4 linked regions of the Homo sapiens genome follow. The protein of the gene in region 2 interacts with the protein of the main gene of each other region in a biochemical or structural test. Each region holds a gene or a part of one and is shown on either strand. Other genes may lie near its edges. The genes, in order: TNIK, STRIP1, MAP4K4 and MINK1.

Region 1 (7,740 bases), on a different chromosome or scaffold from region 2:
CAGCCAAGGTCAGTGGCTTCTGGGAGAATTTGCTGCAGACTTACCAGTCCCTCGCTGTTTCGGTGGCTCTTTAATGTACACAGTCAATGCTCTTTTTGTAAACCCTGGGCTCAAAGCATTAAAAGCAGATCCTGTCTAGAGAGGCCTTTATCCTTCTCACTTTGGGGGCTTATTGTTCTCAGCCAGTGATTCCAGACCGGACCCAGTCTAAATTTTCCCCAAATAGCAACAATGCATAATTTAAACCAGAGCAACCAATGACAGCACTGATCATTTAAATTATGCAAGATTTGCATGGTTTAAAAGTGAGTGAAGCAGGATCTTCTTTGGTTAGAAAATAGGTACTTTGAATCCAGTTTTAGCCCTGATTTTTAGAGCTCAGAGATAAACTAAATCTTGAGGGATGGGCTGGAATTGTTTTATAGATTCAGAGCTGGAAAGAGAATTGTAGAACACTCAGCCACTCCTTTCATTGAACACTTGGGAAACTGAAGCCCAGAGGCGTGAAGTAAGTTGTTCAAGGTCACACAGTAACAAGGGGAGGGGACAGCGAGGAGCGTGGTTTGAGGAAATAATCTAGATTTCCTGACTCCTCATTCAGTGCTCTTTTCTCTAAGTCACACTTTCTGTGGTGGAATCAGAAATCAATAATACATTTTCTGCCTGAGTACAAAAGAATAGCAGAAAGGAATAATTTCACCAGGGTCAGGGAATTTTATTTATTGAGAATGGCGAAACTACTTCATGCAAGTAAGCTTGTGATACATGAAACCATGGAGCTCTAGGCCACCTTTGGAATTCATCTTGTCCAGCCCTGGTTCAATGCCTACTCTGCAGGCAAACGACTGTCTGAAATCACCTAGGACACATGGTTGTCCTGCACAGGTAACCTCTCTGAGTAACCTGTGTCCATCAGAGCATGTCTCAAGGGGTCAGTATAAACATACATGTTATTCAGATGGCTCTGCATGTGAGGTTTATAGAGTTGTGTGTATGTTTTGTATTATCTATGTGGATACATATATTATGTGTAGTATTATGGATATAAACCGTATCCACGTGGGTGTATGAAAATGTGTGTATACATACATAGGCTACAGCAAACAATTTACTCATTCAAACCTGGGGCTTGAGTCATTCTTGCTTCAAGACATCTCAGTATTAAAAGAGATGAAAGTTGCCACCAGTGTGCTTTATTACATATGAGGCGAGCTCAGCCCAGAAAGCTTTTTGGAGATTAGCATATTTCTGGACCTAAGCACCTTGGCTGTCCTTAACTTGGCCCACAGGGTAAGGCATTCAAGGCCAGGAGTTGGCTGCTGCTGACCTCATACTCTCAGCTTCTGCCAGGACTCACATACACTTTTGTATTTGAACAAAATTAGATGATCTACACTTGTCTTTCCCCTTAGCCCTCATTCCCTAGCCATTCCTTTCTCCATTGAAACCCAGATTTAAGAATTGACCTCATCTGAAAGCCTTGCATACATCCCTTTGCTACACTTTTCATGCTCATGTTTTACTTGGTGTGTGATTTCCTTTCTGCTTCTTTACTAAACCGTGGACTTCTTGAGGGCAGAGGCTAGATCTTGTTCATCTTTGGAGCCATAGTCTCCATTAGTTGGATGAATGAGTACGTGAATGAATGCTTGAATGAATGGAGTGGAATGAACCCTGTCTCCCCAGTTCTATGTCCACCTCTTATTCACTCTGTGACTTTGGGTAGGACATTTAACCATAGTTAATAAGAATCATCACAACTGTTTGCCTTTCTCACATACTGGTTTCAAAATCAATAAAGTATTTAAGGCAATGCTTTAAAAACCATACAGCACTGTACAAATATGCTATCCCATGGTTAAGTAGAATTTAGTGGGAAAATTGATACCATCAACATTTGATTGCAATGATTTTATCTAATAGAAAATTATCTTTCCTGGGCACAGTGGCTCACACCTGTAATCCCAGCACTTCGGGAGGCCGAAGTGGGAGGACTGCTTGAAACCAGGAGTTTCAGATCATCATGGGCAATGTAGGGAGACTCCATCTCTAAAAAAAAAAAAAAAAAGTCAGTGTGGTGGTGTGTGCCTGTGGTCCCAGCTAATTGGGAGACTGAGGTGGGAAGATAGTTTGAGCCTGAGAAGTCGAGGCTGTGATTGTGTCACGGCACTCCAGCCTCAGTGACAGAGTGACATCTTGTTTAAGAAAAAAAAAAGAAGACTAAGAAAAGAAGGAAAATAATCTTCAGAAAAAGATATCAGAAGGTTCCGACTCTTTTTAACAGTACCTCCACAGACCTTAGCTGCCTTTTTCCTTTTGTGTACCAATGTGACCTTGTATGTTTCTTTGATGGCCTGAATTGAGCTTTGCGCCCCCAGTATTAAGCATTCATTACATATGAGGTAAGTGCAGCCCTGAAGTTTTTTGGAGATTAACATATTTCTAAACTAGTATCAACTATCAGCATTGTTCATTAAAACCTTCTTTTTTAAAAAAAGTTTTCTCTCTTTATGTATTACCGATTATTCAAATACAAACACATTGATCATGACTGTGCCTTCCTAAAGTTTTATCTTTTCCCTTGGGAGATAGAGTGGACACATAAAATGATACACTAATGGCCCAGTATTTAAAACTTTCTGGTGAGAGGTCTCATGGGGCTCAAAGAAATCTCGAAACATTATTAGTTCATTACTCCAGAGCACTTAATTAAATTTGGTCTAAAATGAGATTTTAGTAAAGTTGCATGAGTTGATAACAGTATCTCAAAATGATAACAGCATGGCAATTTTTTCATTAGATATTCTTTTTATTTTTCAGAGATACTAAACAGGTGTTTTCTTTACAATGGCATTGCCTCATAAAAAGTAGGGTGTGCTGGTATTTATCAGAACATCAGAGAAATATGCATAATCATTTTCATTATTCATTATTAACTGGAGTAATCTTTAGTACAAAAGCCAGTGTAAGTCATGGTTTGCTGTTTGCATAATTATCTACTTAGGAGGTCATGTAATATTTTGTTGATGAGAGAGTACCCAGTACATTTCTTTCAGGAAATATTCCTTTTTTCCCCCTTATCTGTAAAACTCTTTGATATCTTATAATTTCGAGTCTTGCCCGTTCGGCCTTTCTTCTTTCTGTGTCTCTGCCCTGGAATTAATCTTCCGTGCCCTTCTTGTTTCGACGCCATTCCTTCTCTCAGTGATAGTGGTTCTAAAGTCCACCCAGCCAGGCGCTCCTGTGATTGAATCATGGCCGCCATGCCCAGCTGAGCACAACCAGTCTCTGATTCCCTTCCTGATAGAATCTGGAGTAACTTGAGTCTGAAAGATGCTTTAATGTCAAATTGATTCTTACATTTCTGTGGGGGAAGTAGCTCTCTGAGAACAGGGCCTAAACTGGTTTGTTAGCAGTGTGCTGAGAATTCTAAGAAAATCTTAATGATATTTTTTGAATGAAATGTTATTCTGCACATATAAATATAAGGTCTCTAGTGGAGAGAGAGGGAGGACTTAAGTAGAAAATGTTGGATGAATTCCGCTTGTGATTCCTTCCAGTCTGGTTGGAAGCTTATTTCCCTTTAGAGAAACATGATTCTATCCACTCTTTTTTACATGTCCTGGTTGTCTCATGGGGGTGCCCTCAGTTTCTCAAAACACATTTTATATCACCCCAACTTAAAATTCTTCCCTTAATGTTTATCATATGGGTCCCCTTGTCTCCACTGTTCCCTGCAAGTGCTGTAGTTACTGTCCCCTGGGCAACACCCGCAACAGGACCTCCCCTCCTCCTGTGTCTCTACCACCAGCCTTCTTCTGACTGGTTTCTCGTACACTGTAGCCACGTGAGTCTTCCAAACGCACAGTTTCAATCTGGTTGTTTTTATTCAAGGCCTTCTCTGTCTCCTTAGTCTACAGACTGAAAACTAAACTCTTTAGCATGTTAAGACCAGCGGCAATTCAGAGGGGCCTCCCACCGAGCTCTGCAGTTTTGACGACCACTCCCCCATTGCGGCAGGGAACAATTTCATTCCCCCATGGATGCTCTGTAGGGGGCGCTCTGTCTTAGTCTCCTTTCTGTACCTACTGCCCCAACGCTGAACATTCGCAGACCACCTTTTCCACAGAAGTCTCTGATTTCTCTCAAGTTGTCCCTCCCACTCATAGACTGTCTCAGAACTGACCTCACACCTCTTTCATAACACTCAGAACTTTCTGTCTTGGATTATATTCACTACTAGACAATTCCTTTTTAGAGGCAACGTTTGATTTTCTTAGGGATCCTCACCAGTTTTCTTTACACAGCAGGCGTTCGTTCAACAAATAAATTTTGAATTAACAAAATATATACTGTGCAACCCTTTTAGAAGGGCTGGAGGTGGTGCTATGTAGAGAGAGTATAGAAACCTCAGAAAGGTGGGGCCTGTTGCTGACCATGGCACAATTTCAGGGATCATGAATTACATTATAGTCTAGGTTGCATGACTCCTGGGGACACTTTTTATGTAGAGTACAATTCCAGTGGATGCTAATTACATAGAGTACAATTCCGGGGGCACCAATTACGAGAAATACTATGCCTGGTCCTGGGTAGGTATTCCTATTTCTAGAATTTTTCTGCCAAGGAAAGTGTTCTCTCCATTGTCTTATTCTAAGTTTTGAGAGATTTAAAATACCATGGGTTAGAATTGCAAGGCGTATGTGTGTGTGTGTGTGTGTGTGTGTGTGTGTGTGTGTGTGTGTTTGGAGTGTGTTTCAATTATTTCAACAATCGGATAATACTTATGACTGCTGTTTTGATTAAACAGTAATAGATGGGCGGGAAAGGGTGTGCTTCTGGGGTGGCCCACTGGAAGACAACGTTGAGTTTTTATCTTGACAGAGCTGGCAGTGAGCGGGTAGAGAGAGTTTGGGAGATGGTGAGGTTTAATGAGGCACACAGCTGGGAGTTAGAGCCCAGCGTCATAAAGCTGGCTCTGACACCTTGCCCTCTAAGCTTCAGTTTTGTCACATGTAAGATGAGTGGTTTGGACTAGAAATTGCTGGAGGTGACTTCCAGCAATTTGTATTGCTGGGATGCATATTCCTGGAATATGTAAGGGAACTAGAGGCAGGACTGAGGGCATTTAAATAGCCATGGATTCTTATTCTATCTGTTGGAGATACCAAGAGATTGCAAACTGTGCACCTCAATGAGCTGGGAATTGCCACTGAACGTAACATCCCTTTCTAATTTTTAAATGAGCTATTTTTTTCCAGCTGTCAGATTCTGATTTATAATTTAAAGTGTTGTTCTAGTTTTTGAAGACCGAGTGATAGGACGAAGGGCTGACTGTGACTTCCGCTGGGTACTCCCTTACAGTGTTGCTGCTGGATACCCGGATTTAGACTCTGAAGTAACCCTAGATTTTAAAGTGCTGTCTCTCTAGTTAGTGAAATTAGAACCTTGGCAGTATGCATCAAGTAGGAAATTTGTAGACTTTAACAATACATTGCATATGTTACAAACATTTGTTTGATTAGTGTATTAGAAGGTGCAAGTTTGGGTGCAGGGTAAATTCAGGCCCAGTATTCTGTGATTCTGTGAAATGTGATTAACTGTAGGGGAAGAAATGCACATGGTATCCAGCATTCATTCATTTATTTGTTTGTGTATATATTCATTCAGTACCTGATTATTGGGTGCTACTAGTTGCTGGGGCTGAGCTGAAGACAACATTGGCATGGTTTCTACACCCATGGTTGGATGGAGAAGAGAGCCTGCACTTGTCTTTTACTACACTCTAGCCACACTGATTTTTTTCTGTTTTGTGAATATGCCAAGCTCATTCTTGTAGTTCTCCGTGTCAGAAATTTCACATGGAGGGCTCCATCTTATTATTTAGGTCTAAGGTGAGATGCTGCCTGTATTATTACTTATGTATCTGCATAGCAGACTACCCTCAAGCTTAGTGGCCTAAACAACAATAACCATTTATTATATCTCACAGTTTCTGTGGGCCAGGAATTCAGAAGTGGCTTACCTGGGTGGTTTTAGCATGAGGTATCTCCTGAGGTTGCAGGAAGATTTTGGCAAGGTGAGCTATCTTCTGAAGGCTTGACTGGAGCTGGAGGATCTCTTTCCAAGATGATTTACTTATGTGGTGCTGGATGTTGGCAGGAGGCCTCAGTTCCTCCCCACGTAGGTGGCTCCATTGGTTGCTTGAGCATCCTCATAACATCGTGCCCACTTTTACCAGATAGAGGAATCAAGAAAGCAGAGCAGAAGCCACTATGTCTTTTATGACCTAGCCTTGGAAATCACACACCATCATTTCTGCAATACCCTGTTGGCTACCCAAGTCAGCCCTATTCATTTCGAAGGGGACTACACAAGAATATTAACTAACACCAGAAGGCAGAAGTCACTGAGGGCCCTCTTAGAGGCTCCCTACTAAACAGAGAGGCTTTCTTTGCAATATATCTGTAAAGTAACACTCCCTTCCACCCTGAAACTGTCCAATTCAGTGCTTTATTATCTTTAAGGCAGTCGTGACTATCTGAATTTTTTAAAAATCTGGCTGTCCCAACTGGAGCCTAATAAGTTTTGTGAGAATAGGGATCTTGCCTGCATGTTCAGCACCACATTCCTGGTGCTTTGAACTGTGTCTGGCACATGATAAATGTTGATTGAATAAATATCAATTGTGTGAATGCAATTAATTCATTCATTTAAAAGGGATCTTATTTATTTATTACACCTCATACCTCCAAAAAGTAAGTTGTGGCACCTTCTGATAAAAGGCATAAATAGGATAAAGCCATAAAACCATGTTAAGGCTAAAATGAAAAGTAAAGGGGGATTGTGTTTGCATATCTTTGTCTATATATCTACTTATCTATCTGTCTGCCTAGGGCTTGGTGATTGGTGATCCAATTTACCTCTTTTGTAGGTAGAAATTTGGGGTCAGAGAAGTTACTTGTCTTGTCCAAGGATGAAATTCGAATGCAGTGCTGGGTCCCGTTATACCACGTCCCTCAACTGGATTGCCAACATCCTGGACATCTTAGTGAATCAGTCATTCCCACAACACAAAAACCAGTCTAACAAAGTATGGATACAAAGATGGTTATAAAGTTGCTTGTATGTACGGAACACACTGAAGATAGCCTGTGCTCCACTGTGAAGAAACCAAATCTAATTAGATGGTAGAGGAGAACTCAGCTAAGTTAATCAATATAGATAAGTAGCAATGCTTCAGATGTTGAAAATAAAGGTTACGATTCTATGTGCAAAGAGGCCACCTGTAGAAGCTGGAAATATGTGCTGTATCTTAACCTGAGTGGGAAGCTACGAAGACTCCTGGGGCTCCAGGGCCCAAAAAATGCAGACTGTGAAAGAAAGCAGACTAAGCCTGCTGAGTTGTTAAAAATTTGTTTAATTTTTTTTTTATGTTTGAGACGGAGTCTCACTTCATCACCCAGGCTGGAGTGCAGTGGCACCGTGTTGGCTGACTGCAACCTCCGTCTCCTGGGTTCAAGCAATTCTCTTGCCTCAGCCTCCCAAGTAGCTGGGATTACAGGTGCCCACCACTACACCTGGCTAATTTTTATACTTATAGTAGAGACGGGGTTTCACCATGTTGGCCAGGCTGGTCTCGAACTTGTGACCTCAGGTGATCCACCCTCCTTGGCCTCCCAAAAATTTTGTTTAATTTTTAAAAGGCTTTTCTGGTTCTCATTGTAAAAGCAATGGTCA
Region 2 (7,740 bases):
GAACTTGCAGGGTTAGGCTCTTTGCTTCTTTTTAAATTGAAGAGTATGTCATAGGTGCAGAGTTAGTGTATCTGCACTAGGGTCAGTCAGCCTGCATCTCCACTCTTTCCTTGTTCCTTTTTCTCCTTTCCCTTGCGGATGTCACGGAATTCTCCTTGGGAGTGGCTTCAGTCCATTGTTCAGGAGTTGCCTGGGTCTCTATAAAGACATGGGTCATGATGTCATGAATGTTTCTGAGCCTGACACAATGGTCAGGGGCCAGCCTGTGGACACATTGACCCTGGCTCTGCTTCCCTGTCTGTGATGCAGTGCACGCTAGGCGGCTTTGAGGAGCTGCAGAGCATGAAGGCTGAGAAGCGCAGCATCCTGGGCCTCCCCCCGCTTCCTGAGGACAGCATCAAAGTGATTCGCAACATGAGAGCAGCCTCTCCACCAGCATCTGCTTCAGACTTGATTGAGCAGCAGCAGAAACGGGGCCGCCGAGAGCACAAGGTGAGGACGACAGAGGTCCCTGTGACTCCTGAGGGCCCTCAAGGTGCATGCTTGCAGCAGCACAGTCCTTGGAGGAGCAGGGCTGCTGGAAATGATCTCTGATCAGCCAGTCAGAATCATGCCTCCACAGCGAGGATACTTTGTCCCCAGCTCTGGTCCAGTGTATGGTGAGTGCTCAGCACGTGGTGCTTTTGAGGGACTGGAGCAAGAAGTAGTTGATGGTTTGGCCCCCGTCTTGACTCCCACTGTGGTTTTTCCACTGTTCTTGCCTCTACTGGACACCTGTATGTGCTGTGTCTCCTCTGGCTGCACTTCCCTGGTCTGCGTCCTCAGTTGGCTCTTGTCTCATCTCCCTTCCCTGGTTTCAGGCTCTGATAAAGCAGGACAACCTAGATGCCTTCAACGAGCGGGATCCCTACAAGGCTGATGACTCTCGAGAAGAGGAAGAGGAGAATGATGATGACAACAGTCTGGAGGGGGAGACGTTTCCCCTGGAACGGGATGAAGTGATGCCTCCCCCGCTACAGCACCCACAGACTGACAGGCTGACTTGCCCCAAAGGGCTCCCGTGGGCTCCCAAGGTCAGGTGAGTCTCAGACCTCCAGAGCACTCATAGTTCCTGAGGCAGAGCCCTCACACCCTCAGGCCTGCCACCTGGCCTGTGTCACCATGTGTGGTCCTCTGCAGGGCAGGCTGACCGTGGCTCTGGGATGAGGCTCTCTTAAAGCACCCTGTGCTGTCCTGAGGGTCTCAGGGAGGCCGGCCTTGCTGGTCTCACACAACATGGCCCTCATGTGGCTACTGAGGCAGTAATTGGAGTTAGCTCTTGGTTAGATGTGCTAGTGAAGGGGGATAGGAAACAAATAAAAACAAAAGCATTTAAGCAAACATGTCTCCACCCATCCTGGGGTTGTGTATGGTTTTTAACAAAAATGATAGATTAAGGAAGAGTTTCTTTAGAGCCATAATGAAAATGTTTGAGATATATGTGGGTAAATCGATGGATGGGACGGTACCTGGAGATATATAAATGGTGTCTGTTTGATAGGCAGCAGCTTAAGAAATAGATGAACATGTGAGAGGATATAGAAGTCGCTTTCTTGATCCAGGTAAAGCCTCAGTTTTCAGTGATCTGTGAAGGGAATGCAAAACAGATCATCAGAAAATGCAAGGTATGCTGATTGTTTGGGATAGGAAAAGTGAGCTATATGAAAAATCAGTAGCCTATAGCTTTAATTGTTTAAAAGTTTTAATATTTAAGAAAGTCTGTTGACAAACTTGTTCATACTATCTGAATAAAGCATGTTTTTAAGTTTGATATATCCCTTTAATTTTATGAATAAACTAGTTAACATGTATTTCCAGGTTACTGATCCAGCAAAATTATAAGAAACATTAAAATTCTCTGAAAATTTCAGTTTTTTCCCTTTTTTCAAAGAGAAAAACAATTATAGGAGACTTCTCCTGGCTTCACAGTTTCTGGATGCTGTGTTTTTGTTAACTGTAACACTTTGAAATAGCATTTGCTAAAAACCTTTTTTCTTTCTCTCTTTTTTGGTGATGTGGCAGAGAGAAAGACATTGAGATGTTCCTTGAGTCCAGCCGCAGCAAATTTATAGGTTACACTCTAGGCAGGTGAGTAAAAGCCGAGTTCATTTTGCTGTTAGCTCTCCCGGCCTTTGGTGTTTGGGATCCCAGGTGATTTGATGTCGAGGCTCAACACAGGGCCTTCTTTATTCTCCAGTGACACGAACACAGTGGTGGGGCTGCCCAGGCCAATCCACGAAAGCATCAAGACTCTGAAACAGGTGAGTGGCTTTGGGTGAGCTTTTGGCTTGTTTGGTCCTAAGTGAGTAGAGTGAAACCAGCCTGTAGGGAGAAGCCTTTTAAGACTGTTGTCTGCCTGCAAGAACCTGGGGTAGAGGCCGGGGTGGACTTTGCAATAACCTTGCAAACAGTCTTTCGTAAGTTTTGCTTGTTTTATTATAAGTTTTACTTGTTTTAGCTGAGCTTTTGTTTGGGACTGACTGGGAAGTCTTTAAAGATTATATTACCTGACCACCGGGCACCAAGGCATGCACCTGTAGTCCCAGCTACTCAAGAGGTTGATGCAGGAGGATTGTTTGAGCACAGGAGATCAAGGCTACAGTGAGCTATGATCATGGTCCTGCACTCTAGCCTGGGCCACAGAGTGAGACCCGGATTCTTTAAAAAAAAAAAAAAAAAAAAAAAGGATTATATTACTTGACAGTTGTTGAAATTCTAAAGAGCTCAATAAATAGCCCTCCTTTTCCTTGCCCACGTTCTCAGGCGGTTGAAATAGAGGAGTAGGCAGATGGAGATTGTAATGCCAACTTTATAGCTCATAGAGCCATGGAGAATGAGGCTTAAGAACACAGCAGTAGTGTCCTAATACGTTGTTCCAGAATTAGGCAGAGTTACCTACCAGTCCCAGGCAGTGTGGGGAGGCTCTGCCAAGCTTGGTGGCGGGGAGGAGAAGAGAGCAGACTCTCAGCAGGCAGACAGGTTCTAAAGAGAAAAGAGAAGGGTGAGGACAAGTCCGCCCTGTGTCCCCTCCCATACTCTCCGATCAGAGAAGGGAGGAGTGAGTGTGTGGACGGGGCAGAGAGAGATGAGGGGTGTTTCGCAAACCCCTGTCCCTCCACACGGGAGAGAACATTAAGAGTGGGGAAGAGGCATCTCCCCTAACAGCTATCTGGAGTGAAACTGTTTTTATGTTTTTGAAATATATTTTTGGAATTTGTAGTACTAAGTGGTCTCTCTGCAGCTAGGCTTTTTGAGTACTTGATTTTGCTTTCAGTTTTTCTCCTGTTGCTGTAGCTATCTGAAAGGCCATTTCCCTCCTTTAATTTACTTTTTTCTTATCTACCATGGGCTTCTTACTGTAGTTGCAAGAGGAAGGGGCCCTTTTAGAAAAATATTTTGGGGCCAGGCATGGTGGCTCACGCCTATAATCCCAGCACTTTGAGAGGCCAAGGTGGGTGGATCACCTAAGGTCAGGAGTTCAAGACCAGCCTCACCAACATGGCAAAATCCCATCTCTACTAAAAATACAAAAATTAGCCAGGTGTGGTGGTGCACACCTGTAGTCCCAGCTACTTGGGAGGCTGGAGCAGGAAAATTGCTTGAACCTGGGAGGCGGAGGTGGCAGTGAGCCAAGATCATGCCACTGCACTCCAGTCTGGGCAACAGAGGAAGACTTCATCTCAAAAAAATAAAAATAAAAAATATCTGGGGTTTGGGATTTTAGCTAGGGATTTTTGTGGTGACTTAATCCTCTTTCAGAAGACTGTGTTTGAAGACAAATGTGTGGGGATTTTGCTAGAGTGCAGGGAGTTTGGCCAGAGAATGTTTTCCCCAGCCCTTCTTTTCCCATCTCTCCCACCAGCACAAGTACACGTCGATTGCAGAGGTCCAGGCACAGATGGAGGAGGAATACCTCCGCTCCCCTCTCTCAGGGGTAAGTTGGAGGTCCTCAGTCCGGGCGCGGTGGCTCACGCCTGTAATCCCAGCACTTTGGGAGGCCGAGGAGGGCAGATCATGAGGTCAGGAGATTGAGACCATCCTGGCTAACATGGTGAAACCCCGTCTCTACTAAAAAAAAAAAAATTAGCCAGCCGTGGTGGCGGGCGCCTGTAGTCCCAGCTATTCAGGAGGCTGAGGCAGAAGAATGACGTGAACCCGGGAGGCGGAGCTTGTAGTGAGCCGAGATAGCGCCACTGCACTCCAGCCTGGGCGACAGAGCGAGACCATCTCAAAAAAAAAAGTTAGAGGTCCTCTTCAGCCCCCGGGATCCCCAGCTCTTCCCAGGCATTGTGCTGGGATTAGACCACAAGGTTGCCCCAGGCCCTGCCCTCAAAGAGCTCCCAGTCCACCTCCCAGTGCACAGGCTGAGACACGTCTAGTGCAGGGTTAAGAATACAGACTGAGTCAGGAACCTGCCTCTGATGCCTGGGTCCACCACTTTATGGATGGCAACTTAGGCAAGTTACTGGGTCTCTCTATGCTTTATTTCCTTGTCTGTGAAATAGGAATAATAATACCTTTATAGGGTTATAATAATAAGGATGAACTGAGTTATTACAAGTAAAATGCTTGGCACATTGTTTGTGTTCAGGGTTTGCTGTTATCATCATTAACATCATTATGTACATCACTGTTTACAGGTTTTCCTCCAGCCAGCTAGGAAGCTGGCTCAGGAGATTGTATTCTGGGCTGGGGTTTTATGCTTGTACTCATTATGTTAAAAGGGAGAAGAAGAAGTTGAGCAAGTCCCTGCAGAAACCCTCTACCAAGGCTTGCTCCCCAGCCTGCCTCAGTATATGGTGAGTGGTGCCTGCAGTGGGACACTCCCACTACACTGGCCTTAGAGCAGGCCCTGCCGTCCTCCTGCCACCTGCAGACCAACAGGAGGACTGCTCAGAGCTTAATTTTGACCCTGGGCTCTCAGACCTGTGTCTGAATGGTCTACTCTTCCCAGATTGCCCTCCTGAAGATCCTGTTGGCTGCAGCACCCACCTCAAAAGCCAAAACAGACTCAATCAACATCCTAGCGGACGTCTTGCCTGAGGAGATGCCGTGAGTATCATTCTGTGAATGAAGCAGGTGGGGCAGAAGATAGATGGAGAAGGGCAAACATTTTCCTCTTGTCAGGTTGGTTGTTGTTGGCCCAGCTCTACAGGTTAAATGTAGGTATTTTTGACCCAAAAAAAGGAAACTACGAGATTAAAGAGTTTCACTGGTTGGGGAGATGGCTTGGTCCTGTTGGCCTGGATTCTAGTGTAGACTCTACCACTGAGCAAACTCCTGAGTGAATTGGGGAAAGTCATTTCCTCCTCTGTAAAATGAATGGGGCCACCCTGGACATTTCCCCAAAGCCCCACTCTCCAGCTGTGATTGAGACACCCAGGATGAGGAGGGTTAGTTTGTAGACAGCTTGCCAGCAACAGCTGAACCTGTGCCAGGTATAGAGACATCCCTTTTCGCCAGTGATTGGGCACGCAGAATGCTGGCAAATGTCTCAGGGCGATAGAGTGAGATTCTTCAGAGCTCTTCTGCCCTGTGCCCTGTACTTGTCTTTCATGTGAGAGTCCAGATTGAGATCATGTTCTACTTTGAGAAGGACCTGGACCTTGACCTGATCTTCTGCCTGCCTGGGCCACCAGCCCTGAGCCCAGCTCCTGGGTGGCTGTGGCCCCGGAGTATGGCAGTGATGGCCGGCTGAGGGAGGAGGCAGGGGTTGGCTAACACCAGAGGGAGGATCACAGAACACTAGGCCATCATGTGATGGTCCTTGGAAAAAAGGTTCTAGAGTCAAATACTGTATATTTGATTCATGGATTTCTCTTATAAGGAGGAATTCCTCTTACAAAGATGTACAATGAGAAGTCCTGAATTAAGAAACCAATGTAACTCAGTGCTTCCTAAATTTATCTTACTCCAAAACCCTTTTTTTCCATGACATGAAACTTGCCAATATCCTGGTATTCCACAGAACACATTTGGAGAACTCAGGTTAATATGGCAGCAGAAGCTTAGGGGAGATCTTGGAAAGGAGAAGAAGTTCATTTTTGGAGGAAAGGCAGAGAAACAGACTGAGAATGTATTTGAGGGCATCATGGGGAAGAAATAAATTGTGCGAGGCTACATTGCTTGGGAGGTGGATGGGGGAGCCCTCGGCTGACTTCTGAGATGTCCTTGGGGTGAGTGGGGAGGTAGGAGTCTTTGCCCAGGGAGGCTCCGGAGTCCATCTTTTCTGTGGGCACCTAGAAATGAGGTACTGCGCATGCTGGTGGCTTACCCAGGCAATTATGTTTCCAGCACCACAGTGTTGCAGAGCATGAAGCTGGGGGTGGATGTAAACCGCCACAAAGAGGTCATTGTTAAGGCCATTTCTGCTGTCCTGCTGCTGCTGCTCAAGCACTTTAAGTTGAACCATGTCTACCAGGTACCCACAGGGCTTTCCCTCCTGTCCTGTGGGCTGGGGCCTCGGGCACTGCTGCTCCTCCAGCCCACAAGAACGGGGGCCTTGGCCTTTGACCCACTTGAACTCTGCATGAATGTTCTAAGACATGGCCCTTCAGCCAAGGCCTTTCATCCCTGGAGGAAAGAGGGCAAGGTCCCAAGGGCCGCGCCTTTTTTTTTTTTTTTTTTTCCTGTTGGCTTCAGTTTGAATACATGGCCCAGCACCTGGTGTTTGCCAACTGCATTCCTTTGATCCTAAAGTTCTTCAATCAAAACATCATGTCCTACATCACTGCCAAGAACAGGTGATGAGGGCCAGGGACCATGAAGGGGTGGATATGGTCAGACGGCAGAGTTCCCAGCTGGTATTTCCCACTGTGTCCATTTTTCCAGCACCTACGAGCCAGCACTGTGCTAGGCATCAAGACATAAAGATAAATGAGACATGGCCTCTGCCTGTGGAGAGCCCACTGTGTCAAATCTGAGTCTAGCTAGTCCTGCCCCAGGTGACTTGGTCTGTGCCTGGGCAGGAGGGTTTTCATCCCAGGATCTAGTACTTTCCTCCCTGTCCCTTCTGTACTTTTTTTTTTTTTTTTTGAGGAGTCCATGGGCTGCTTGCTGTCTCTAAGGGGCTCGGCCATGTGCCTTGTAATGCCCTATCTGCTGACTCTTAGCCCCTGCTGTTGGCCTGGTGCCAGCTGTGCTTGACATTACTTGCTCGTCAGTGTGATATACCACAGGGCGCCGGCCAGACCCTGTCTCCAGAAAGGTTTGGCATAAATTAGTTGCCCTGAGCTATCTCCTCCCCCGCCCCACATTGATTGCTGTGGGGGAAGCTGTGAGGGTCTCTTCCCCTTACAAGATCAACAAGCTGGCCTCTGGCTACAGGGGTGCTTTACAAGTTCTCTTGTAACAGATATTTCCTCATCTTATAGGTGGGGAAACTGGGGTGGGACACATCAGGTAGATTCCTACTTCTGCTCCAACAAGTGAGGGAGGAAAGCTGGGAGCTGGCTCAGGCACGGCTGCTCCACCAGGCCCTGGGCCTTTGCTCATGGTGGGCATCTGGTTCCTCTCCCCTCTGCAGCATTTCTGTCCTGGATTACCCTCACTGCGTGGTGCATGAGCTGCCAGAGCTGACGGCGGAGAGTTTGGTGAGTGGCTGGGCTCTCCTCAGCTGTCCTTTTGGCACCAGGGTCAGTGGGTAGAGAGCCTGCCTACCCCAACACTGCAGGAATAGAGGTGTCTCCCGCAGGTGAAATC
Region 3 (4,140 bases), on a different chromosome or scaffold from region 2:
CTCAGGCACTATTTTGTTCTGGACTGTAGGCAACTTTTGCACAGATTTAATTCCCTAGGTTTGCATAATTAGAGAAATTCTCAACTGTACCGACTTTGTAGTCAGAGAGCTGTGTCATGCCAGTATCCCAAATACCTACCAAACGTAGCTAGCGCTCAGCAAACCTAGTTCAAAAGCTCGGGAAGGTTGCGGGGAATGGAACCAAAATGGCAATGAGGGGAAATAACAATGAACCTGACTAAACTCTTACCATAAACAGCTCCCACCTCTTAAAACCAATAAAGACAAACTGGGGTTTCATTCTTTCCTTTCTCTTAAGGTTTAAAGACTATATCGCCTTCTAGCTTACTTCTCTGCCCTTAACATCCATGCTGACCAAGTAAGACACAAACAATCCAACTACTGTGTAGCCAGGTCAAAAACAAGCTCTGGCTAATTCACTTGGAAGACTACAATCACCATTTAATTTGGCGAGAAAAAACTGGGTTAGAAAAAAAATGACTGGTGCTTAAACAAACAACAGACCGGGGAGAATGTCTTTTAGCCAGTTACCAACCACTCAGTGAGTTGCAACACAATCTTTTCCAAAATTTTCCAAAGCCTTCCAAATTCAGTTGAGCCGGGCAAGCTGAGTTAACGGGGCTCTCTTTCAAATTCAAAAATCTGGCCCCGGCCCGAACAGTTAACCAACAAAACACAAGCTAATACACTTGAGATCACCTAAGAATACTGACCCAAGTTCGGACCACAGTCCAGTACAGTACACTACCCAGGCTAGAAGTCTAGGCTAAGGAGAGGCGTTCAAGTGATAGATAAACTCTACTCACAACGCAGAAAAGAGACAATAAGATCCACACTTAATCTAGCCTAAGAAAAGGTCTACAGTCGGCTTCCAACCCCCCCAACTCCACCCATTTTTAATGAGACAATGACAATTCTTCATGGTGAACCACAGAGCCCTGCTTCCCTAACCTTGTACCGACTCTAACAGAACACTCCCCCAGTGCAGATTAAACTTTTAGAAAACGTTCAGTATTGAGAAACAAATTAAGACAGGAAAAATTTAACATTCCGTTCTGAATTTTCAAGGCCTGCGCCTCCATTCCCTACACATCTTTCATAATCTCTAGACTGTACAATGTATAAAATGAACACTGTTAGTCACATCAGGTGTCAGCTACTCAGCGCAGACTCAGTCTCCAGATTTGCTAGTTTCATTTATCGCTGGGGTGGAGGGTGGGTGTTAAAATTTTGAAAAAAGAGAAAGACCTGGGTGGGTGTAAACCAGGGCATCCTCTATATTCTCTTCGCTCTCTGTCATTTCTGTTTCAATTACACAGCTGTCAAACAGGTTATTCCTGGAATTCAGATTTTATAATCCCCACACTGTAATTCTTCCTGCTGCTGTTGCCCAAACACACACTCCTCCCTGCTTCCCCAAAATACGTATCCATCAATAGAAAGGATGACAACCACAGTTATAAAGTATTCCCAGGTAACGCCAAACTCCCCACCTTGAGCAACTGGCAAGCACTGAGTGGAGGCTGAAACATGATGACAATTTTCACGATGGCCAAAGCAGTGGTTTAGGATCGTCAGAGGCAAGGCCCGCCTCCACTGTATTTCAATTTACACACAAACTCAGAAGGCCGGATTTGGGGAAAAAAAGAAAAAATTCAGGTTGTCTTATTTTTAAAAAATGCTTTTCCATTTTATCGAAGTAAAGTGCATGCCTAAGAGTGTAGCTTATTTCCTTATCTCAAAGCCAGGAAATGAGGTCTTTTAAGGCCAGTCTGAATATAAACTCGGTGTGCAAAAACAGAGGGACTGCAAGGCGAAAGAAACCCCTCTCCCAACTTTGGCCAAGCGGCGTGGCCTCCAGTCAGCAGCATGTTTATCACCCTCTCCTCGTCCCCCAATAAGAAGTTTCCACATGCCACGGGAAACAAAGAAGGCGCCCACACCGACCTTATAGACTTGTCCATAGGTGCCATTTCCAACCACTTCCACCAGCTCAAAAATCCCAGCAGGATCCTGGAGAGGAAGGAGGGGAGGGGTTATCATTTAAAAGAAGCCAAAAAAATGAATAAATCAAGCAAGGCAGTTGGAGAGAAAAGGCGGTGACAAAAGAGGTGGGCTTCGCCCCGCGCGGTCCCCCAGCGCCCGGGGGTCGCGCGGCGGGCTCGGGGCGTGGGGGCGGTAGAGGGTAGCGCCCGCCCCGCACCAGCCCGCACAGGAAGACAAAGGGGCCGCCGCGCCCCGCGGCTCTGCCCACGGCGGCGCCCGAGCGCCCGGCCGACCTGGGCGCGGCCCCGGCTGCCGGCTGCCGGCTGCCCGCTCCCCGCGCGCCCGCTCGCGGGCCCACTCACCCGCAGGGAGGAGAGGTCGATGTCCACCAGACTTTTTGCAGGGGAGTCGTTCGCCATTTTCCCTTTTTGCCACCAAAAAACAAATAACAATAAATGTCTCTGTCGCTCTGTGTATCTCAGCCGCAGACCAGGCCGCCGACCGCGCTCCTCGCGCGGCAGCCGAGCCGGCCCGGTACTCTCCTCGCGGGGCCGCGGGCGGCGGCGGCGGGCTCGGCTGCGCTCTCGGGCCGCTCGGGGCTCTCTGCCGGCCGGGCCGCGCGGAGGGCGGACGGAGCGTGCACGGGCGGCGGCGCTCACACCATGGCGCGGGGCCGGCCGTCAGGCCCCCGGGCGTCGCCCGCCGCCTCAGGCCCCGGCGCCCGCGCCCCGCGCCGCGCGCCTCGAGGACGGGCCCGGAGCGTGGGGCCGCGGCGGCGCCGAGTTGAGCGAGTGAGCGCGAGGCAGCGAGACAAAGATAACCCGGGAGGCGGAGGCGGAGGCGGGGAGCGAGGTGGGGAGGGAGGGGGCGGCGGCGGCGCTGGAGGAGGAGAAACGGGACACCAAAAATATATTCTGAGGAGAGAGAAAACAGCTCCCCCTTTCCTCCTCAGGCAGGAAAAACCGGCGGAAACGCACTCACACCCCGAGCCCTGCCGGGTAGGGCGCGGGCCGAGGCGCCCGCGCGGCGTGAATATTCATCAGGGGTGGGGCTCGAACAATGGCCGCGCCGGCGGGCAGCGCGGGCAGCGGTCCCGACACGACGCCCGGCGCCCAGGGTGCGGCCTCCGCGCTCGACCCCGCACGGCGCTCCCGAAAACTGCAGGAGCGGGGAGGAAGCGGGCTGGGATTTCCCCGGGGAGGAGCTGGGGTGGGGAAACGCCCCTACCTCGCGCTAACAACAAATGACACGAAACTGAGCTGGACCGACACTAAGAGGCCATGGACCCTCGCGTCTCCCAGGGCAAGGGTGTGTCCCGCCGGCCGCGTCCCGGCTCTAGAGGGACCCGAACCCGGTGTTGCCGAGCGGAGGAGGGGCCTCCCTCGATCCTCGCCCCCTCCTCGCCCCATTCGCCCCATCCCCCACTCTCCCACACCCTAGAGAGGAGACCCTTAAGTCCCTCGTTTCCGGCTTCCCTGCACGGTTTTCTTTTCCTTTCTCTGCTTTTGCAGGCTAAATGTGTGGTACGGTTGTGGTTGTAGTTGTGGGATTCGCTGAGCATCGCTGGGCTGCCCGGCCATATCCAAAACAGCTCCTGTAATTGTCTGGCGCTGCGCTCCTGGCTGCGCTCGGTAGGTGAGCACTGTGTTTGGGGCCCTTAGTACCAACCCGCATTTTGTAACCTGGAGATCACTAAGGATCAACCAACAGGTTTCTTCCGGCAACCTCGGAAGCCAGTCGGTAGTTAGGCACTTTAATGCCAGTGAATCAACAGTCATTTATATCGCATTCCTCCACCGTCCAAAAACTTTCAGTGGTTCCCTGTTACCTGACAGGTGTTCTCAAAACGTGAGTGCTTCAGGCAAAGTGCCAATTGCCTGGCCCTGCCTCCCGAGTTCTCGTTTCAGGAGGTCTGCAATGGGCCTGAGAATGTGCATGTGTAAGTTCTCAGTGTAGCTAACGTCGCTGTTACAGGGATCACTCGTTGACAACAGTGGCCTCCGGCTATTCATGATTGGATTTTCATAAACATCACCATCATCATCTACCAATTCTTATGCACATACTGTGTCTCCCCCACACAAACGCGTTGTGCCGAGTGCTTTACACACAGCACTCTATTTACAGCCTTGA
Region 4 (7,740 bases), on a different chromosome or scaffold from region 2:
CTGTCTCTGTTCTTTCCCTATCGACAAGAATAAAAAGCTTTGTGGGTGAAGTTGATTCTGGGAGAGGCCTCCTGTCCAGAGTTGGTGAGTCAGGAAAGCACTGCAGCATTTTCTCTTGCTTAGGAGAAGAGGGTGAGGCAAAGCCCCTCCCTCCCTAGCCTCCTTCTCCTACTGCCTCCATCCTCCGTTAGGGTGGAGAAGTATCTTTCACGCCCTGCTCTAACTTTCAGACTGTAGAAAGTCCAAGCCAGAGAGGCTGGAACAGAACATAAATGTTTCTCCCTCATCTGTCTTGAGTTTTTATGGGAGGAGACCCTTCGCCTTTATTGAGCCTGTAACTTGGAAGTCCACTGTAGGTGGTTTTTCTGTTGGCCATGATGGCTCAGGAGCGCTCTCTGTCCACTCCCATGAGCAGCACATTCACTGAGGTGTGTAGCCACAATGAGGGGTACTTGCTTTTTTTCTTTTCTTTTTTTTTTTTTTTGAGACGGAGTCTTGCTCTGTCCCCCAGGTGGGAGTGCAGTGGCACAGTCTCGGCTTGCCTCCCAGGTTCAGGCAATTCTCGTGCCTCAGCCTCCTGAGTAGCTGGGATTATAGGCGCCCACCATGACACCCAGCTAATTTTTTGTATTTTTAGTGGAGATGGGGTTTCTCCATGTTGGCCAGGCTGGTCTCGAACTCCTGGTCTCAAGTGATCCGCCTGCCTCGGCCTCCCAAAGTGTTGGGATTACAGGCATGAGCCACAGCGCCCGGCTGAGGGGCACTTTGTAAGATAGAAAACAGTCGGGCCGGGCGCGGTGGCTCATGCCTGTCATCCCAGCACTTTGGGAGGCCGAGGCAGGCGGATCACGAGGTCAGGAGATCGAGACCATCCTGGCTAACACGGTGAAACCCCATCTCTACTAAAAATACAAAAAAATTAGCCGGGCGAGGTGGTGGATGCCTGTAGTCCCAGCTATCCGGGAGGCTGAGGCAGGAGAATGGCGTGAACCCGGGAGGTGGAGCAGGCAGTGAGCCGAGATCGCGCCACTGCACTCTAGTCTGGGCGACAGAGCGAGACCCTGTCTCAAAAAAAAAAGCTGTGTCTCCTAGAGTCAAGCCCTCTCTACGCTCCACCCTCTGAGCATAGACTCAGATCCCTCTGTCCCGCAGGGTCGGCATGTCAAGACGGGGCAGCTGGCTGCCATCAAGGTCATGGATGTCACGGAGGTAGGGAGTGGAGCTGGGCAGTGGGAGGGTCGGACCAGCGAGAAGGGAGTGTTGGGGGAGTCTCAGGGCTCAGCTCCTCCCATCTGCTTAGGACGAGGAGGAAGAGATCAAACAGGAGATCAACATGCTGAAAAAGTACTCTCACCACCGCAACATCGCCACCTACTACGGAGCCTTCATCAAGAAGAGCCCCCCGGGAAACGATGACCAGCTCTGGGTGAGAAACGCCCCCCTGCCCGCCTTCCCTCCCCGCAATCCCTGTCTCCGGGCTGTTCACTAGGACTCAGTATCAGTGCCCAGCATCTCTCCTTGCCAGCTACCCTCCCTCCGGTCTACCCAGCCTCCCCTGTCCCTGGACCCAGAGGGGCCTCCTGCCTCATGGATGGCCCCGCACTCCAGCCCCCATGAACTGCAGCATCTCATCCTTTGAGTGTTTTGTGGGGAGGGGTCCTGGCGTTTGCCCCAACCCTTCCCCTAACCAGTGTCTCACACTGTGCGATCGGCTCTTAATAAATAAATATAATCCTGGCAAAGGGGAGAGAGACCGTGGGGAGGCCGTCCATCCATTTTCCTGCCTTTGAGCACAGCTCCTGGGAAAGCAACAGAACCAAAATATTTGTGGGAGATAACAGGGCCCAGACCCCTCCCAGAACCCCAGATGCTACAGAGCACCCAGCCCTTCTGGGTCATCATTCAAAACAGAGCCTGCTGCAGAGCTTGGGGCCTCCCCCAAATTCCTCCTGCCTGGCCCAGAACATTCCTAAGAGTCATTCCCCTCCCTAGCCTGGGCACTGGTGCTGACATGTTCCCCCAGCCTCACCCTTTGTGGTACTGAGCCCAGTCCCTGAGGATGGAGCAGCAGGGAGTGTGGCAATGGCTGTCGGGAGTTTTGGCGCTGACGCCAGGTCTCCCCTCCCAACAGCCATTCAGAGAAGCACTTACTAAGCACTTCTGTATACTCTGTATAGATGAGCATGAGCCATGGTCCTGGCCTCCAAGGCCCTTTGGCTTTTTGGGAACACACACACTCATGCACACAAAGAAAGGGAGAAAGGTGACAGGGAGGTCTACCTGCCAGGTGTGTGTGGTGGAGATCGCGGCAGGCTAGAGGCATTAGTGGCCGGGCGCCCCCTTCTGGACCTGTTGGGCACAGGTCCTCCCCTCCTCTCACTGTGCTCTGCTCTCCAAGGAATAGGCACATGCAAATTACTTTTATTGCATATGCAAATATATGTGTCCACCCAACCTTTTCCTGCATTGGATGTGGCTTTTAGTGAAAACTTGGACAAGCATGCTGATTTCCAGGAAGACTGGTTGGAGCCATCTTCTCTGCCTGCGGGTCTCAGCTGCTCTCCCTGGGAGGTGCAGACCCAGAGCCCTCCTCATCTCCTGGCCTTGTTACTCTCTGTGCTGGAGGAGTTTCTCTCAGGGTCTTCCCAGGTTCCCTGTTGCAGCTGTCGAGGTAGACCCTATGCAATCTTTATGTCTCTAGCAGACCTAGAGAATCACTATTTCTTAGCCCCCTTTCTGCTTCTAAGTCAGGGACTGGCAAACTTCTTCTGTGAAGGGCCAGATGGTAAATATTTCAGGCTTTGCGGGTCATATTTGCTGTCCCAGCTACACGGTTCTGTTGTTGTACCACGAAAGCAGCAATAGTCAGTACGTAAACGAATGAGTGTGGCTATAACCCCAGCACCCTCACTGCGGTCACTCACGTTTCAATGTTTTACACTTTCACATGTCATTTAGGATTCCTTTTTTTGTTTTTTCCCGCAACCATTTAAAAATGTAAAACCCAGGCCAGACGCAATGGCTCAAGCCTGTAATCCCAGCACTTCGGGAGGCTGGGGCAGGAGGATCACCTGAGGTCAGGAGTTCAAGACCAGCCTGGCCAACACGGTGACACCTCGTCTCTACTGAAAATACAAAAATTAGCCGGGCGTGGTGGCATGCGCCTGTAATCCCAGCTACTTGGGAGGCTGAGGCAGGAGAATCGCTTGAACCTGGGAGGCGGAGGTTGCAGTGAGCTGAGATCGCGCCACTGCACTCCACTCTGGGCGACAGAGTAAGACCCTGTCTCAAAAAAAAAAAAAAAGTGAAAACCATTCTTGACTTGCTGACCATATAGAAGCAGGCCTTGGGCCAGCCCTGATCCAAAGCAGAAGTTCCTTTTTTTTTTTTTGAGACAGAGTCTTGCTCTGTCACTCAGGCTGGAGTGCAGCGGCGCGATCTCGGCTCACTGCAACCTCTGCCTCCCAGGTTCAAGCGATTCTCCTGTGTCAGCATCCTGAGTAGCTGGGATTACAGGTGCCCACCACCACGCCCGGCTAATTTTTTGTATTTTTAGTAGAGATGGGGTTTCACCATGTTAGCCAGGATGGTCTCGAATTCCTGACCTCATGATCCGCCCGCCTTGGCCTCCCAAAGTGCTAGGATTACAGGCATGAGCCACTGAGCCCGGCCCAAAGCAGTAGTATTTTGTTTTGGGTTTTTTGTTTGTTTGTTTTTTGAGACAGAGTCTCACTCTGTCACCCAGGCTGGAGTTCAGTGGCGCAATCTCAGCTCACTGCAAGCTCCGCCTTCCGGGTTCACGCCGTTCTCCTGCCTCAGCCTCCCAAGTAGCTGGGACTACAGGAGCCCGCCACCACGCCCGGCTACTTTTTTTTTTTTTTTTTTTTTAGTAGAGACAGGGTTTCACCGTGTTATCCAGGATGGTCTTGAACTCCTGACCTTGTGATCCACCCACCTCGGCCTCCCAAAATGCTGGGATTACAGGAGTGAGCCTCCGCGCCCAGCCATAAAGCAGTAGTTCTTAACCGCTGTAGGGTTTGGAATCCCAATGAGAATCTGATGAAAGTACTAGACCCTTCCTCAGGGAAAATGCATATACCTGCATCATTTTGTTTACAGTTTCAGGGATTCCTTGGACTCCTACTCTAAACCCAGCCCCACCCTGCCAGTTCTTTTCCATCTGTATTCCTTCTCCTCTTTTTTTTTTTTTTTTTTGAGACGGAGTCTTGCTCACCATGTTGGCCAGGCTGGTCTTGAACTCCTGACCTCAGGTGATCCGCCTGCCTCAGCCTCCCAAAGTGCTGGGATTACAGGCATGAGCCACCGCACCCAGCCTTTTTCCCTCTCTGTCTTGACTTGAGGAAATCCTGTGGCCTTTGTGAGGCTTCTGTGGCCCTTGCTCTCTAGCTCATACCAGTTCTAACCCCAAGGTCTCTTATCCTCCTCCAGGAGTCTAGCAGGGGATTGGGGCAGGGGTGGGAGGGCTTGTCTGACTGATACTTTTCCTTTCGGTACCTTCCTGGGATCCTAGCTGGTGATGGAGTTCTGTGGTGCTGGTTCAGTGACTGACCTGGTAAAGAACACAAAAGGCAACGCCCTGAAGGAGGACTGTATCGCCTATATCTGCAGGGAGATCCTCAGGGTGAGCTCAAGGCCCCTCCCCTTGTCTTCTCCTCCGCTACCCTGGCTGGAGTTTCTCCATGAGCAAAGATCCTCCCTGCGCTGGGAGGAGACATCACTGCCCTCTTTAGGGAGCAGCAGGCCTGATGCGGGTGGGATGTGGAAGCAGGGTCCACACCTTGGGAAGTCTCAGGCTGTTGGAGGAGACAAGCTCCTGTTTCCAAGCTCTGCCGCTTCTCCACCTGTAACCCTGCAACTGCTGGGAATTCACCTGGAGCCACCTCTCTGAGGAAGCTCTCCAGGACAGCTCAGCTTGCTTGGGCTCCTGGTGGAGAAGGTCTGCTCCTTCAGCCCAGCCCTGTCCAGACTGACTGCTCCTTGTCCCCTCAACTCACTCCCCACTTACTCTTTCCTACCCCATCCAACACCATGGCTAATTTTCCCTGCTCTCCTGTCCCAGGGTCTGGCCCATCTCCATGCCCACAAGGTGATCCATCGAGACATCAAGGGGCAGAATGTGCTGCTGACAGAGAATGCTGAGGTCAAGCTAGGTGCGCCGGCTCCTTCTGAGGCTGACGAGGACCTTTCACCTCCAGAACAGAGAATGAGGGGCCCCTTTTTCTCTCTGGTGGCTCAGGCCCAACTCCCTTCCTACTGGGGAGGCTCACTCCCTCCCCTTTCCCCTCTCCCCCTGGAATGCCCTGCCTCCTGCTGAAAATCCCTCAGGAAGCTCTTCACCTGTCACCTGTTACGGGCCAGGTGCTCTGCAGGTTGCTCTGGGGAGATGGGATCTGATGGCCCTCCTGCCTGGGATGCTGTCCGTGATCCTTTTACCTGGGTTTTTCTCTAAGATGCTGGAAGATGGAATCGGGTTCTTCAGGATGGTGGTGGGGTAAAGGAGGGTGCTGGGGTGTCTGGGTCGGGCCAGGACCACAGCTGGCTCAGGCAAGTCCTGTGTGTGCACGCAGGGATGTGAGGCAAGGGAGCAGAGGTGACTCCCCACACTGACCCCTCCCTCTGTGTCTTCACAGTGGATTTTGGGGTGAGTGCTCAGCTGGACCGCACCGTGGGCAGACGGAACACTTTCATTGGGACTCCCTACTGGATGGCTCCAGAGGTCATCGCCTGTGATGAGAACCCTGATGCCACCTATGATTACAGGGTATGGAGTGGAAAGTTGGGAGCATGGGGGCTGCCAAGGGCGGGAAGCAATATGGGGACCACGGGGCCTGAGCAGGCTGGGGAACAGAGGAAGGTCAGATGATGTTAGCAGTGAGGGGCTGGGGAACATCTTACGGCAAGGCAAGTGTGGGTGGGAAGATGGGATGGGTTGGAAGGCACTGCTGCAGGAATGGGTGTGGCCCAGGAAGGCTCCTGAGAGGCCAGGATGGTGGGTGAAGAGAGGTTGCAGGGCAGAGTTGTCAGGAATATTCACTTGTTCCTTCTTTCCCGTCTATAGAGTGATATTTGGTCTCTAGGAATCACAGCCATCGAGATGGCAGAGGGAGCCCCCCGTAAGTTCTGAGTCTGCCGGGAGTGGGAGGGGAGGGAAAGGAAGGGCCCAGAGAGTGGCTGTAGGGAGGAGGTGGGTCCTGGGACCCTGCCGAGGAAGGGTCCTGTAGCTCCCAGTGCAGTGAAAGGGACTGAGGGTGTCTCCTCTGTGTCCAGCTCTGTGTGACATGCACCCCATGCGAGCCCTCTTCCTCATTCCTCGGAACCCTCCGCCCAGGCTCAAGTCCAAGAAGTGGTAGGTCTCTGAGAGTGTGGGCTCTGGGAAGGAAGGTCCCTGGACAAGGCCATCCCCACCTTCATGCCCTCTGTGCTCAGGCTTGGATCTCACCAGAGAAGAGATTCTGGGGGGCAGAGGGCGGTGACTGGTGTTGGGATATGAAGACAGGAGGGACGTCAAGGTGGCTTGTGGATGAATGATCCACCCTCTTCCTCCTGCACCCATCCCTTCTGAGGGGACCCTCCCAGTGTGAGCCACCACTGTTTCCAGGTCTAAGAAGTTCATTGACTTCATTGACACATGTCTCATCAAGACTTACCTGAGCCGCCCACCCACGGAGCAGCTACTGAAGTTTCCCTTCATCCGGGACCAGCCCACGGAGCGGCAGGTCCGCATCCAGCTTAAGGACCACATTGACCGATCCCGGAAGAAGCGGGGTGAGAAAGGTCAGTGGGCAGGCTGGAGGGGGCAGGTACTAGGGGACACTCCAGCCTGGCTCCTCTCTGCCAGCCCTGCTCGCTCCTGGCACCCCTTCCTGCTCCCCTCCTTGGCCCCAGCTCTCCCTGTCCAAGGAGATCGTTCTCAAACTTGCAACCCCCAAGGGGTTTTCCCTCCTTTCCCTCCCAGTCTGAATCAGCCTTCCAAAGGAGGACCGGCCTTTCGCATCCTTACAAAAACTCCATGCTAAGCACATGTGTGTGCGAGCACAAGCACAGGCTCTGCCACACCTCAGCTGCCCTGGGACCCAGTCCCGGTCCTGTCCAGGCCCACACCTGAGACCCGCTGTCCTCCCATTGCCCCCAGGAAGTGGGTGGGGCCCCTCATGCTTGCCCAGCCAGAGAGACCTGGTTATCCCCACCCAAGGTTTCCCTAGCCCACGGCGGGTCTGGGGCGCTGGGTGAGATAACTGCAGTGGCCTCCCCCTGCAGAGGAGACAGAATATGAGTACAGCGGCAGCGAGGAGGAAGATGACAGCCATGGAGAGGAAGGAGAGCCAAGGTAGGCCTGGCAGGTGGAGTGGGGGTTGGGGCGGTCATCGCTGAGTGGGGGGACTACAGTGGTGCTTGGCTTTGGGGACTCTCAGCCTGGGGGTGGTGGGCACAGAGAGGTAGAGACTCCTGGAAACCAAATTTCTGAGTGCTAAGAAGTGGAACCAATGACTGAGCAAGAGCTGGGGAGAGAGCAATTTGTGGTGAATGTGGGGCGCAGCAGTAATAGGAAAGGAGGACAGGACTGAAGACTGGGCAGAAGGGGACGGTAAGTCTCCTGGCCACCTGGGAGTGGCCAGAGGCAGAGGCTTTGATCCAGTTAAAGCACCCACTCAGGCGGGCCCACGGGGTTGAGAGTGGGAACCAACAGGGTTCTGACCCCAGTGCTTCTTTGTGCCACCC

What was found.
Region 1: the proteins of STRIP1 (region 2) and TNIK form a complex in vitro, tested with the Homo sapiens proteins (one study listed by BioGRID).
Region 3: the proteins of STRIP1 (region 2) and MAP4K4 form a complex in vitro, tested with the Homo sapiens proteins (one study listed by BioGRID).
Region 4: the proteins of STRIP1 (region 2) and MINK1 form a complex in vitro, tested with the Homo sapiens proteins (one study listed by BioGRID).

The regions. Positions count from the first base shown.
Region 1 is NC_000003.12:171,449,735-171,457,474, reverse strand, and holds part of TNIK (TRAF2 and NCK-interacting protein kinase), read left to right. Parts: intron 1-6,934; exon of another isoform or gene 6,935-7,740. UniProt on the Homo sapiens protein: Serine/threonine kinase that acts as an essential activator of the Wnt signaling pathway. Recruited to promoters of Wnt target genes and required to activate their expression. May act by phosphorylating TCF4/TCF7L2.
Region 2 is NC_000001.11:110,042,779-110,050,518, forward strand, and holds part of STRIP1 (striatin-interacting protein 1), read left to right. Parts: intron 1-309; coding exon 310-492; intron 493-860; coding exon 861-1,078; intron 1,079-1,540; coding exon of another isoform or gene 1,541-1,559; exon of another isoform or gene 1,560-1,909; intron 1,910-2,061; coding exon 2,062-2,127; intron 2,128-2,236; coding exon 2,237-2,300; intron 2,301-3,901; coding exon 3,902-3,973; intron 3,974-4,763; coding exon 4,764-4,838; intron 4,839-4,993; coding exon 4,994-5,091; intron 5,092-6,333; coding exon 6,334-6,460; intron 6,461-6,681; coding exon 6,682-6,782; intron 6,783-7,564; coding exon 7,565-7,631; intron 7,632-7,740. UniProt on the Homo sapiens protein: Plays a role in the regulation of cell morphology and cytoskeletal organization. Required in the cortical actin filament dynamics and cell shape. Part of the striatin-interacting phosphatase and kinase (STRIPAK) complexes.
Region 3 is NC_000002.12:101,696,367-101,700,506, reverse strand, and holds the start of MAP4K4 (mitogen-activated protein kinase kinase kinase kinase 4), read right to left. Parts: upstream 2,801-4,140; 5' UTR 2,427-2,800; coding exon 2,370-2,426; intron 2,243-2,369; exon of another isoform or gene 2,065-2,242; coding exon of another isoform or gene 2,035-2,064; coding exon 1,969-2,034; intron 1-1,968.
Region 4 is NC_000017.11:4,879,832-4,887,571, forward strand, and holds part of MINK1 (misshapen-like kinase 1), read left to right. Parts: intron 1-1,152; coding exon 1,153-1,209; intron 1,210-1,282; exon of another isoform or gene 1,283-1,300; coding exon 1,301-1,426; intron 1,427-4,531; coding exon 4,532-4,642; intron 4,643-5,080; coding exon 5,081-5,171; intron 5,172-5,651; coding exon 5,652-5,782; intron 5,783-6,079; coding exon 6,080-6,134; intron 6,135-6,288; coding exon 6,289-6,367; intron 6,368-6,619; coding exon 6,620-6,795; intron 6,796-7,278; coding exon 7,279-7,348; intron 7,349-7,740. UniProt on the Homo sapiens protein: Serine/threonine kinase which acts as a negative regulator of Ras-related Rap2-mediated signal transduction to control neuronal structure and AMPA receptor trafficking.